3 separate regions of the Homo sapiens genome follow, and regions 2 and 3 are each reported to be linked to region 1. Evidence: microRNA targets listed by miRTarBase, many of them from high-throughput screens and not tested one by one. Region 1 holds a microRNA gene; each other region holds the end of a gene's coding sequence. Distances are from middle to middle.
The links. Region 1 holds the annotated microRNA hsa-miR-5584-5p (CAGGGAAAUGGGAAGAACUAGA, at 2,038-2,059, opposite strand). A microRNA usually pairs through its seed, bases 2 to 8, with sites in the 3' UTR of a target mRNA and lowers its output. Matches are read on the target gene's strand: a 7mer-m8 pairs with bases 2 to 8, a 7mer-A1 pairs with bases 2 to 7 and ends in A, and an 8mer does both.

Region 1 (4,347 bases):
TTTAGGGTGGCAGGAGGGCAAAGAGCCAGAGAAGGAGCTGTCTGCAAGGAGAACCAGGAGGTGGTATGAGAGATGCCGAGAGAGAAAAGTGTTTCAGGAGGGTGACCGCAGGGTTAGGCGAAGAGATGTTAAGAAGGGTGAACACCAACATGGACTTGGAGATGTGGATGAACAATCTTTAGGAGAACAGATTCACCAAAGAGGTAAGGACTGTGGCAGAAATGAGCCAGTGGAGAGAATGGAAGTGGTTAAATATAAAAAAGCCTTTGAGCAGTGAGGCAGTGAAGGGGACAGAAGCTCAAGGAGTGAGGAGGGTTTAAAGAATGTGTTTTTTAAAATGGGGAAGGCTTGGTCCAGTTGCATTTTTGTGACACACACAAGGAGACATCTTCACTTCAGCTCTGTCTCACAGGGCTGTTGGCAATGCCTTTTCCCATCCTGGGGGCTCTCGTGTCCACAGATTCCCAGGGCCTAATGTGCCAGGCACCCTGGAGGAAGCATCCCTCTCAATGTGTGACAACATGAACACCTTGGTTTTCTTCTCCCTTCTTTCTGCCCTGCTTCCTTCTCTTCCTTTGCTTATTTACTTGCTGAACCCCTCCTTAGTGTCATCTGCCTTGAGGGGTATGACTCTGGGACTGGGGCAGGTGAGAGAGGACCGCCAGGAGGCGCCTGGAGAGGCTGCTGTAGCAATGCAGTTGTCCATAGCAGGTGGGCTGGAGAGGAGAGTGGATGTGGGAGAGGGATTTGAGACTAACCAGACATGGGTGGAGGGAAATGCAGGGGCAGAGCTGGCTCAGAAGTCCCAGCTTTGGGGTGCCAGCGAGGGGTCAGGAGTGATGCCCGAGGTCTTACTTTTCAGAGCCAGAGCTCGGTGCATCAATGACTCTGAAGCAAGCACTCCATCTCGGGGTAACATGATCCTGTAACGCAGGGCTCCTCTGATGTGGTCTGCTTGCCTTTTACAGCATTAGGGGAGCAACATTTCATGGAAAATTCAATAAATCCCCCTGTACAGCCAGACGTCTGTAAACAATGGCTTCCAAATTCAATCAGGCTGGGGACCCGCAGCAGCATTTATGAGCTCTAACGTGGAATATTATATAGGGGAGTGAGTAGCAGGGGGCTGGGGGAAGGGACTTCCTGGAAGAAGAAAGCTCCTGTGTGGCTCCTGCTCTCAGATGTTGCGGTGGAGGTGATTCTCCAGGTAGAAGTCCTAGCCATGCGACCTCTTAGGCTGGGCCTGGGGGGCCACTGAGCCATGGCTCTGGGCCTGGGGAGGAGGACAGGGATCTGGCCTTCTGGTACTGGCCATGAAGAGGCTGGGTGGCCGGAAGAACCAGGACCGAGAGTGAGCTCGCCAGCTTCTCCTCCCACGTCCTGCAGCCCATGCTTACCTGGCAAGCAGTGTGAGTCATCTCGGGTGCTTATTGTCTTTGTCACACCTTCCACCTCCTTTTACAAACCTTCTACCCACTTTGGTTCTATGGTCTGGTGATGATCTTCAGAGAACTAGCCCCTTTCTCTCTCAGGTTCAGAATGCCCCTCACTCAGTTCAGAAAGGTTTGCAATGAGGTAGGAGAACATGCAAGAAAGGGTTTCTCCTCGTCTCTACTATAAATAGAAAATTAGCCGGGCGTGGTGGCGCATGCCTGTAATCCCAGCTACTCGGGAGACTGTGGCAGGAGAATTGCTTGAACCCAGGAGGTGGAGGTTGCAGTGAGCCGAGTTTGCGCCATTGCACTCCAGCCTGGGCAACAAGAGTGAGACTCCATCTCAAAAAAAAAAAAAAAATTGGGTTTCTGATGAAGAGGTTGCAGTATGCTGTTTTAGGGAGGCTCAGAGGTCTCACCCATCTTTAGGCCCCCTAGATATCTCCTCTCCTTGGCCCTGTGAACCCCTCTACACTCTGGTCAGGTCTCCTAGCCTCTGCACCCCCACCCCCACTGTTGCCCTTGCACCCTCTGCCAGGCTTTCTCCAGCAAACCACAAGGAGCATAATTGGGCAAAGGGAAGAACTAAAGGTCTGGATTCAAATCTAGTTCTTCCCATTTCCCTGTTATGGATCTTGGATTAGTCACTTCCTCCTCTGAATCTCAAGGTGGGAATAACGTGAACTGCCTTGCTGAGTGCCTGAGGATAAAATTAGATAATGGATGTAAAGTGCCTGAAAGTTAATGGCATGGAATCAGCATGAAATACACAGTAGCTTTCTTCTCCACAATTCTTCTCCTTTCAAACCTCCCTTCAATAAAGCTTCTTTTAATCCTCAGAAACTGCCCTCCCTCCAACCGAAGGTACCAGATGTCCCGTCAGCTCTTCTCTCTGTCCTGCACATCTCCGAGTTCCCTTTGTGACTGGCTCTTCTGTGAGGCCTGATTTGAATCCAACAGGAAGAGCATAGAAGATCACAATGGACCATGGCCACATGGAAGGGGTGGAGGCAACGCCGAGGTGTCCCGCTTGCCTTCCTAGAGAACTACGGCGTAAGCTCCTCAAGGGCAAGGATTTTAGCCCGCTTTGTTTGTGGCTCTATTCCCAGGGTCTAGAGCCATGCTTGACACTTGGTACATGCTCAATAAGTATTTCCTGGTTGCATTAACTCATTCAGCATCTTCTCACCATTTTCCTGTGGTTTTTCTCTGTACCCAGTGGGAGAATGGAGAGATTGCATTCCAGGACATACAACAACCCCTCCTGGAAATCAGAAATCCTCTCTTCCTTCAAAATGTCCTTGGAACACTGGTCAGGCATCCGCCGTGGAGTGGGCATGGAGCAGAATCACAGCCACAAGGCTTCTCCTTGCAGCCCACTGCTAGAAACAAACATGTCTTGGAAGGCAAAGTTCCACAAGGCTTTAGGCTAATCCATGCCCAGCCTTTGGAGATTGAAAGGATAACTTCCAGAAAGGTGAGCTAGAGATGCACTTCCCTCCTTCTCCGGAGGACAGTTCTATAGAGCCCTCAGTCAATCTTAAAACACAGGGCAACAGGGAGGAAAAGGTTGGCTAGCCCCAGAGCAATGCTGAGTGGCATTTATAAAGGATTTATCGTGTGCCAGACTCTGCACTCAGCACTTACATGCATGAACTCATTAAAACCTCGTGCTGGCTAGTACTGGTATTAGTCCCATTTTACCTATAAGGAAACTGAGGCTCAGAGAGGTTAAATAGCATGCCAAGATCACAGGGCCAAGAACAAGAGGAACAGGGTGATCCCAGGTCTGTCTGACTCCAGAGCACAAGTGACTACCCACTATAATCTACAGCCTCAGAAGACAGGGATGGAGAGCAGTCCTTGGCTCAGATGGTTCTGGGGCCCCGGCAGAGATCAAGCATTTTCCTGTCTGCTCCTGCTCTGTTCTTCTCCCACCCCCGCTCCAGTTCACAGTGGGCAACTGAGATCATTGTTTGGGAGTGGTTGTCTCCTGTGGTCCTCCCGACCTCTTGCTGGGTATTCCCTGGGGATGAGGAGGAAGATGGGACAGGGTCAGGGGAGAGCTGCTGCTCTCTGTCCCCAGCTCCACAGGCCAGTGGGATGCTCTGCTGTCCAGCTGGGACCAGTTCCGGGCAACTGGGCATAATGCAAGAGTTCTCACCCCGGGCCCAGGCTGGAGATAGGCTGCTTGCTCCACCACTCGCCACTGCCCAGTAATCCCACTCATCTGGAGGAAGGAGATTCTTTGGGATCAGAGCTGGCGTTGACCTTTTGGTTTTTCCATTTGGCAGGACGGGGGAGGGGTTCAAGAAGGCAGATCCCAGAGATATCTCCCCCCACAGCCAGATACCCAGCTTTTGGGGTTCTGGGATTGACTCCTGAAGTCGTTACATGTGAAATGCTTGCATGTATTTTTTTTTAATGCCCAAAACATGATGCAATGTTTCCTGTACACCCCGGTCACGTACTCTTGTACATGCACACACGGCTTCCACGTTGACTTCTGTGACTAGCCCCTTCCGTGCTCCGGCTTGCTTTTGCTCTCTCTACTTCCCCCTCCCTCTCTCTCTCTCATTCTCCCTGCTAGCTGCTGTAAGGATCAGTCCCCAAAGAAAAATGCCCAATTTGTCATGTCATGTCCAGCTGTTAACCTCCCGTCGGTAAGCCATGGGGAAGACTTACTTTCTCCTATTTATTTATTTGCCACTTGGACAATAGAAGGCCCCAGGCCTGCTGAGTTCTCCATAATAAAGCCACCAACGATCTCCCCCATCACCCCCTCCCCTCCCCCCAGCCCCATGTCAACAACACTAGCCAACCTGCAGGTGTCACTGGGCATTAACCCCAGGCTTAACTCTGGCTCTGCTCAACCGGAGGGAAGGGGGAGGGGGTAGCCGGCGAAGGTGGGGGG
Region 2 (4,347 bases), 150 Mb from region 1:
CCATGACCATTCTATCAAACCTCAGCTCCTCCCACCCCTTTTCCCTATTTTTTTTACCATTCATACTACTATTTGAAAAGTTGTATTACATACTTATTATCTGTCTCACCATGAGAGCAGGGGCTTTTTCCTGTTATACTATCCTCTAGCATCTAGAACAACTCAGATGTACCTCATAAGATTGGCTGAATAAATCACTGAATAGTTTTCAAAAAGTTAATGTAATCAAGTCAAAAATAAAAAGTGCCCAGTATGCTAGAAGTGGTGAATCTTTACCATGTCAGTCATTGGATTTAGGCCAGTTAACAATATACTAAAGAACAAACTAAATAACATGCATGTTTGACTGATCTAGGAATTCATACTACTCTAAAAAACGCAGTATCATTCTAAAAATATAACTATCCAGTTTGTCTGTTTTAGGCATTTAGGCATAGAAGGTTTAACTTTTCTGCATTCCAGTGCACAGTCATTAAGTGTTACAGCAGGTTCCTCATTCCTTGAACACAACTACTGCAACATGTTCTAACATTAATAGTTCCAACAGTGAACTCCCTGACTGTTGCAAAAGTGAGCAGTTCCCTAGGTACACCAATACTGTATGTTTGGATGGGAGTAATCTCTGGAGACTTAAGCTTGAAACCGCTCCTCCAAACCTTCCAATGATTTTGTAAGAAACTATGTAGTTTCAAAACTCCCAATATAAATCTGCATTCCTCTTCAAATAGCTAGAGTGGTTTGTTTCCTGAAAATTTGTATATGATCAAGTTTAAAAATAATATAAACTTCATAGAACTATTTCAGACTATGGGGAGGGCAAGCAAGACTAACACACAAAAACATATGTGTACACATGAGGAAAAAGGATCACTAAATACATAAAATGTTAATGTGCTCATCCCTGTAAATAGAAATATGGTAATTTAAATTTTATTTTTACTTATCTGTTTTCTCTAAATGGTTTTTGAGGAGAATACATTAAAAGCCCTTTTTTTCCCTCAAATAAACAAAATCCTCCTACAGGATAAAAATATCTAAATGCATCTTGAAATGTTAACGTTACAGGCAACTAGGAGGATTAATTGAAAGTATTAATCTGCATGTAACACCATAATATACACACAAATATGTACCATGGTCCTAACTGGGGGAGCAAGTCCCCGTGGTTGTGATTCCCGAGCAAATATTTGTCTGTTTTAGTGGCACAGTCGAGCTGACTGCTGTTCGGAAAAGGGCAAGCTATCTTGGGAACTAAACATATAAGGTGAGAGTAGCCAGTGCCGCAGCTGTTGGCAAGGTTTTTGTTGATAATAACAGAAGTACATCCCTTAGAATTGGCTATTTTGAAGGCTTAAAATAGAATGGAAGCGACTTCACCTACCCAATAATTAAATAAAATTTTAGAAAAGACTAAATATGAAATGAGCAAGATTTTCTATAAAATATCATTTAAAAAAAACTTTCCAAATAGCATTTATCTATTTATGGGTTGCTCTTTATTCTTCCATTTTCTCTACCCTCTAGCTTCATGACTTAATTTCAAACCAGCAACATATAGCACCCAGACAAGTCACACTTCTTTATTCACAGACAGAAGTAATCATGAAGTATCACAAGGGATTTGCAATCACCAAAGAAGATGCAGATAAAATAAACCACTCTTAAGCTATGGAAATTCCTATTAAGGAATTTTATTAGATTAATAAGAAAAATCCTTATACCTATTAATATAGTCATTTTACAAGGATATTTTTCAAATGTCATTTGATATTACTTTTGTTAACACTTTCAATGACAATTCTGATGAGCTCTAATTTTGGATCTTTTATGGTTACTGCTTTCTGTGACCTAAGAAACCTTTGGCTAACCCCCCAAGTCACAAAAATATCATCTGTTTTCAGTTAAAAAGCTTCATACTTTTAAAATATTACATTTAGGTCTATGATTCATCTCAAAGTCATTTTTGTGAGGTAGGGGGTCATTGTTCACTTTTTTCTATATGGATATTCAGCTATTCTATTCTGGCTCCATTTGTTGAAAAGACTTTCCTTCTCTGTTGAATTGTTTTGCCACCTTTGTCGAAATCAAGTGATCATATAAACGTTGATCTGTTTTCAGGCTCTCTCTTCTGTTCCATTGCTTTATTTGTCAATCCTAGTGCCAGTATCACACTGTATTGATTACTAAATACAACTTACCACAATAATCCTCACATTGCTTAACAAAATTTAAGCCTCAATAGGAAAGAATATATAAATTAAGCTGAAATAAACGAATGAGATCAAGATGAGCCTTCCTTAAAAATCTATTTTTAAAAATTATATCATGGCTTTGAAAACACTCCATAATTATTACTGTATCAACAGCAAAACATATTTACCCACAAATAACTGAGAGACTACATATTTTCCATTACCTCCAACTGAAATTATGTATGAAAAATATTTCATTCGTTTTTCTATCAATTTCCTATCAGGTTTTTCTCCATTAGTTCTAAGTCATTTAATACCACAATTACTAAGCTTAAAAACAATCCTTAAAAATGTGCTGAAGCTGGAAGATGGGTACACATTCTCCCTAATAAAATAAATTATGCTAAATTGATTTTACAATAAATAATAAAATGTTAAAGTCATGTATCAACCTCAGAAATATTCTTGATAAAGAAAAAAGTAGGTTACTTCCTTTAAAAAAGAAAGCTTTATAAAGTCTTCTTTAAAGTCTGACTTGCAAAGGAAGATTAGAAGCAGAAGATTATTACAAAGCAACTCCCAAATCAATTTTTAAAAATCAATTGTGAGCAAATTACATATGGCTCTTGAAAACTGCAGGCTGTACGAAATTTATTCAAATTGGCATAGAAAGACCCCCATCACCACTACCATCTTTTTAAAAAAGCAGATAACATGAACTGTCAGACCTCCAGTTTTTTTATACACAGCTTACAAGCTTGAAACAATATTCCATTGAGAGTAACACCAACATTCTTTAAGATTTACAATTTCTTCTTAACCTGAAATTTTGCTTTGAAGCATAATACTCAGACCTTCCTGAAACAATTCTCTAATACATAAACAAATAACCCCAAACACTTGAAGAAAATTTACTAAAATAAAATTGAGATGTTTATTACTTTTCTACTGACAGCAGTGAAAATCACTGGAAATTATACTTTTGTCCTTTTTAAATGATTTACATTAAAATCATACTTTCTCAAATAACTGGTATAGCAGATAAAATTCAGTTTTAAAATCCTCAAAACACTTAGATATCAAAGATAGAAATACTGATTTTTTTTCCGTTAATGATGAGAAGAAATAAGACAACCAGTTTAATCAAGATCTGACAATTGCAAATTTTAAGTATTTAAATTACAGATAAGGAATATCGTTTGTGCATTTTCTAGCTTCATATGGTAGTTAGACAACCAGAAAACTAACAGTTGTCAGACTCAATGTCAAATAATGGAATTTGGGAAAGCATTCTTAATATCACTTTCATTTAATATGCACTACATGCACATGATGCAGGTAGGGAAGAAGTTTATGAATCCATGCATTAAAGACAAGACAGGCTGGCACTATTGCCAAACGTGCACTGAGCCAATTAGGATGTTGCTCTAAGTTCTTTATACATAATGGTTTCCATGAAAATATGTGCAGAAGCAGAAATGTGTACATATCTGAAAACATCTTCATTTGGTTTCCTGAGCTTTCTTTGCGTTCTGTTTTTCTTTTGCCTAAAAATTAAAAATAGTATGTTACAAAATTTTAAAAGTCAGTTTTAGACTATATTAGAATAAAATGTGCCTAAGAGGGTATTCTCAAGCTGAAAGGCTTGAAATACATTGTTTATAAGACTTCTAAAGCATTATGTTTTATAACTTGAGACTTATAACAAACTTTTCCTGGACAATTACATAGTTATTCTTTGCCCTAAGAAAGGATCATGTTTGGTTTGCAGTTCTTTCCTATCTGAAGGTGAAATGAATTATTATAATTGTAATAATTTAAAAATTCCATAAAGTCAAACTCATTCATGAGTATTCCAAAACAATATATATACACATATTTGCCCATTTCCTATTCACATGAGCATAAGAAAAATCTTACATTAGTTTCTGCAAATGTGAATAAATGAGTTTAACATAACAGTTTAAGTGACTTTAACATAATGTCACTAAAGGATTATGTATCCTTGGTGTCAACAAACTTTATTTATATGACCTAAAAAAAAATGTTTTTACATACTAGTTCAATAGATCTTCATTACAATTATATAGCTTGAACACAGTACTTGTTTTATTCTTTAGCAAATGAAAAAGCCAGAGCTTATAGATGTTATCAA
Region 3 (4,000 bases), not on the chromosome of region 1:
TTTGCTGGCTTCTCTGTGTCCCGGCGGGTTCTCGGCTCACCGTCCCACGCGCCCCCGCTGCCTCTCACCTGGCGGAGGTCGAAGGCAGCCGCCTCCCCGCGCTCCTGGCTGCGGCAGGCCAGCACCACGCGCGCTCCCCGGCGCGCCAGCTCCAGCGCCGTCATCTTTCCGATGCCGCTGTTGGCGCCTGCGGACCGCGGGCGGGAGCCGAGCTGAGCTGAGCCCGGCGGGCCGCTGCTACCGCCGGCCCGGCCTCCTCTCCGCGCGCCCCGCCAGCTCGCACTCACCCGCCTCCGCACTCACCCGTGACCACGGCCGTGCGGCCCCGCAGGTTGCCCATGCCGCCGCACGGCGGGGCCTTCACCAGGTTGTAGTAGACAAGCACGTAAGCGCCCAGCAGCAACCCCGCGCCCAGCAGCAGCGCCTCCATGCCGGCCGCGCCTCCCGGCTCCCGCCCAGGCCCCGCACCGCCCTGGATCGCCGCCAGGCGGCTGCCGATCCGCCCTGCACAGGCCTGGAACGGCGCCCGGGCGCGTCAGCCTCCGAAGGCGGAGGCGGGCAGGAGGCTGGGCAGGGGCGTGTGCGCGTGCGGGTGCGCGCCGGCCCTGCGAGCGCCCCCTAGGCGTGCGTCGGCGTCCTGGGGGCGTGTGCCTCTGTGGACACCTTTGAGGTGAGTGTGTGCGCTTGGGCCCTGGGAGCGCCCCCTAGGTGTGTGCCTGTGTGAACTCCTGGGTGTGTGTGTCCACGTACACCCTGTGAGTGCACGCTAGGTATGTGCATGCATCTGCAACGCTTGTATGTGAATGATCTCTAGGTGTGTATGTGCCCATGTCCCTGAGGATCACCCTTTGGGTTGTGTGCGTGCCTCTGGATCCTGTGTGTGAGCTCCTGTAAGCACCTTGTAGGTGTTTGTGTGCATTCTGGCAGAGTCCCTCCAGGTATGTGCCTGCATCTGTAGTCTCTGCCAGTGCATGTGCTTGCATATCTCCATATGTTTACTCGAGGTGTATGTAGCACAGTCCCTCCCTTCTGAAGTTAGGTGTGTACATGAATACACGTGTGTCTTTGAGTCTAGTCCTAGATGCTTTTCCCTCTAAGAACAAATCCTTCTCCTTCCTTCCCTTCTGCACAAATCCTTCTCCTTTCCTTCCTTTCCTTTCCTTCCTTCCTTCCTTCCTTCCTTCCTTCCCTTCCTTCCTTCCTCCCTTCCTTCCTTCCTTCCTTCCCTCCCTCCCTTCCTTCCTTCTTTCCTTTCTTTCTTTCTTTTGAGACGGAGTTTCACTCTCGTTGCCCAGGCTGGAGTGCAGTGGCGTGATCCCGGCTCACTGCAACCTCCGCTTCCCGGGTTCAAGCAATTCTCCTGCCTCAGAATCCAGAGTAGCTGGGATCACAGGTGTGTGACACCACACCCGGCTAATTTTTGTATTTTAGTAGAGAAGGGTTTTCACTATGTTGGCCAGGTTGGTCTCAAACTTCTGACCTTAAGTGACCCACCTGCCTCAGCCTCTCAAAGTGCTGGGATTACAGGTGTGAGCCTCTGCACTGGGCCAAATCCTTCGTTTTCTTATCTTCACATCCAGCCCCCAGCTTCTAGGATTCTTCCGTGTTCTCCCCACACAGGCTAGAGAGGACACTGTTAAAGGTGGCACAGGCAGTTAAGGGGTGTCAGAATTCACTCCTTCATTCCCCCTCTGTATCTCCCTACCTCAACCCCACTAGTGCCTTCCATGGCTGAAGGGAAGCAGGAAGAGATAGAGAGTAAAATCTGTTATTGCCTTTCAGGAGGAAATTTGCCTTTGGAATGGTTCTCATAGGTGATAAGAGACAGGCAGAGAAGCTCCATCACTCAATTACAAGTGACCATGATGGCAGGAAGGGTGGGGCTGGCTAGGAACAAATGGGTAAGACCATTCCAGGGCAGAAGGCCGTTGCCTGATACATTCAGTACAATTTAGAACCTGGTATTTGGCACTTATGGTGTGCCCAGCAGTGTAGTTAGACTTGGAAATTCCGAGTGGAAGATATACAAGTTTCTGTCCTTAGGGAGTTCAAAAAGCCCATTAGGGCACCGGGAGCAGAGTGATGACGCCTGCATGGGCAGATGAAAGTCAGGGACAGACCTCAGATTCCAGGGCCAGTTTCCTATTTAGCTGCACTGCGGATTCGGGTTTCCATTGTAGATGCTGTGGGATGAGGCTGGGGGTAGAATATTCATTTTCTATCCCTAAGGCAAAATCCTGACACACAAGCAGATGCACCTACACAAACAGTGCTGGAATATACACAGAGGTGCTCTCCATCTGAGGAGGCTGACCTCAGGAAAACTTCCTGGAGAGTTTTTCACTAAGATCTGGGAGGAAAGCATGGAATTTGGTTTAATGAAGGTCCCCGGGACTTGAGAATTAAGGTAATGCAGCAGACTCGTTTTTTGATGAGGAATAGCAGTTGTAGAGAAGTGTGACTGCAGATCACATGACTAGAAGTGACAGGTCAAGACTAGATTCCACTATCAGTCAGGGTTCTCTGGAGAAACAGCTCCCCCCGGGCCAGCAGACGCACCCATGTCATTCCATTGTCATCCACCCACCCTGGCTCACTTTTCTCCAACACCTCCCCTACCAAACTTCCCTATGGGAATGAGACCTGTTCAAAAGGCCCCCCACCTGCTAGACCCAGATCTAGGGGAGGGTCTCCTCTAAGGGTGATGACAGGTAGGACAGACAGTCAGAAAACAATTTGAAGTATTTTTGTTTTTTATATACAGAATACAGGAAAGTTTCTGTAAAGTCTAAAACATTACAATTACTATGTACATTGGTACTGGTTGTGGGGGTGGGAGGAGAGGAGGGAACCAGGGGCAGGAGGAAGAGGAGAGAAGTGGCAAGAGAACAAAAAAAGGAGACAAAACAGGTTTACGACAAAAACATTTTTGCTACAATAGACAATTTGAGAAAACGCTCTACCACATGTAGTACTGTACACGGTTTTTAAAAACATTGAAAAAATGTCATCACTAGATGTATTTACACAAAATCCAAATACACTTTTCCTTATTTGAAATAAAATAGATGGACAGCCAGAAAAAGAATTCATTTCTCATTTGTCCATAATACACAGTAGCTACCTGTAGTGCAACCGCTGCAGAAAGGGAAAATAACGTGGAGGGTGGGAACCATGGAAGGAAGGTGGGTAGCGATCTTTATATTAAATAAAACAATGATATTGTATAGATTTTGCTGTATGAAAACTGTATTTTTTCTTTTAATATAAAACTATTGTCACTGCCACAAAATAGAACAAGTTTCTGATTATTTTACAATGGTGGGCGAGGGGGAGGGAGCAGGAGGTGGGTGGGGAAGGGTTTTGTGTTGGAGGAAGTGTCCAGACCCTGGGTCTTTCCCTCCCTGCCCACGCTGTTCCTCAGCTCAGGTCTGCCGCTTTCCCATGAAATGTTGAGTACAAATATATGTGCAAATGCCCCCTAGAACTTGAGAAAAGAAAAAGGATTTTTAAAAAACAGTCAAAAGGTTTTCTTCATTTCATGCAAAGATTGTAGTTGAAGGGTTTCTGGTAGAGTATAGAAAACACCCGGGCTTGGTTTGTGTACATTTTTGCATTGCAGGAGTCTTGGGTGGGTGTACAGGCCAGTGGCGGGGTAGCCGCCAGTCCTAAGGAACAGAGTTGGAGCGCAGCACAGGGCCCTGGTGGGGCTTGAGAGAGAGCTTCTCGGCCAAGACCCCATCCTGCAGCAGGCTGGCATCGCCTTTGGGCTGTTTGGTCGCAAACTCAGTGATGCTGAAGACAAACTGCAGGCAGCCCAGCTTGATGTAGCTGCCATGGTGCAGTAAGGCTGTGCCCTCCCAGCCGGCCCCACTGCCCCCAATCAAGCTCGAGCTGCTGGCTTTGCAATTGCAGGGTCTCCGCTGCGGCCCCTGGGCCTGGGAACTCATCATGGCTGCCTCCTCACTTGGCTCTTCGTCCTGTTTCTGGTGCCGGCGGC

Region 2: the mRNA of UCHL5 is a reported target of hsa-miR-5584-5p. Seed matches in the 3' UTR shown: 7mer-A1 at 3,532-3,538.
Region 3: the mRNA of PHF12 is a reported target of hsa-miR-5584-5p. Seed matches in the 3' UTR shown: 7mer-m8 at 3,147-3,153.

What each region holds. Positions count from the first base shown.
Region 1 is chr1:44,543,205-44,547,551 of GRCh38, reverse strand. MIR5584 (microRNA 5584) reads right to left here and starts at 2,059; the gene lies at 2,000-2,059. The region is part of intron 2 of RNF220 (ring finger protein 220); the gene reads right to left. RefSeq lists an enhancer at 1,316-1,842.
Region 2 is chr1:193,012,657-193,017,003 of GRCh38, forward strand. UCHL5 (ubiquitin C-terminal hydrolase L5) reads right to left here. Exons shown (of 11, transcript NM_001199261.3): 11 at 1-3,739. The coding sequence ends at 3,695. Among named protein-coding and RNA genes, the nearest start is that of UCHL5, 45 kb to the right of the region's middle.
Region 3 is chr17:28,902,515-28,906,514 of GRCh38, forward strand. PHF12 (PHD finger protein 12) reads right to left here. Exons shown (of 15, transcript NM_001033561.2): 15 at 2,736-4,000. The coding sequence ends at 3,669. It overlaps DHRS13 (dehydrogenase/reductase 13), which reads right to left and starts at 565. Exons shown (of 5, transcript NM_144683.4): 1 at 304-565; 2 at 69-187. The coding sequence starts at 430. RefSeq lists a silencer at 158-787 and an enhancer at 3,332-3,832.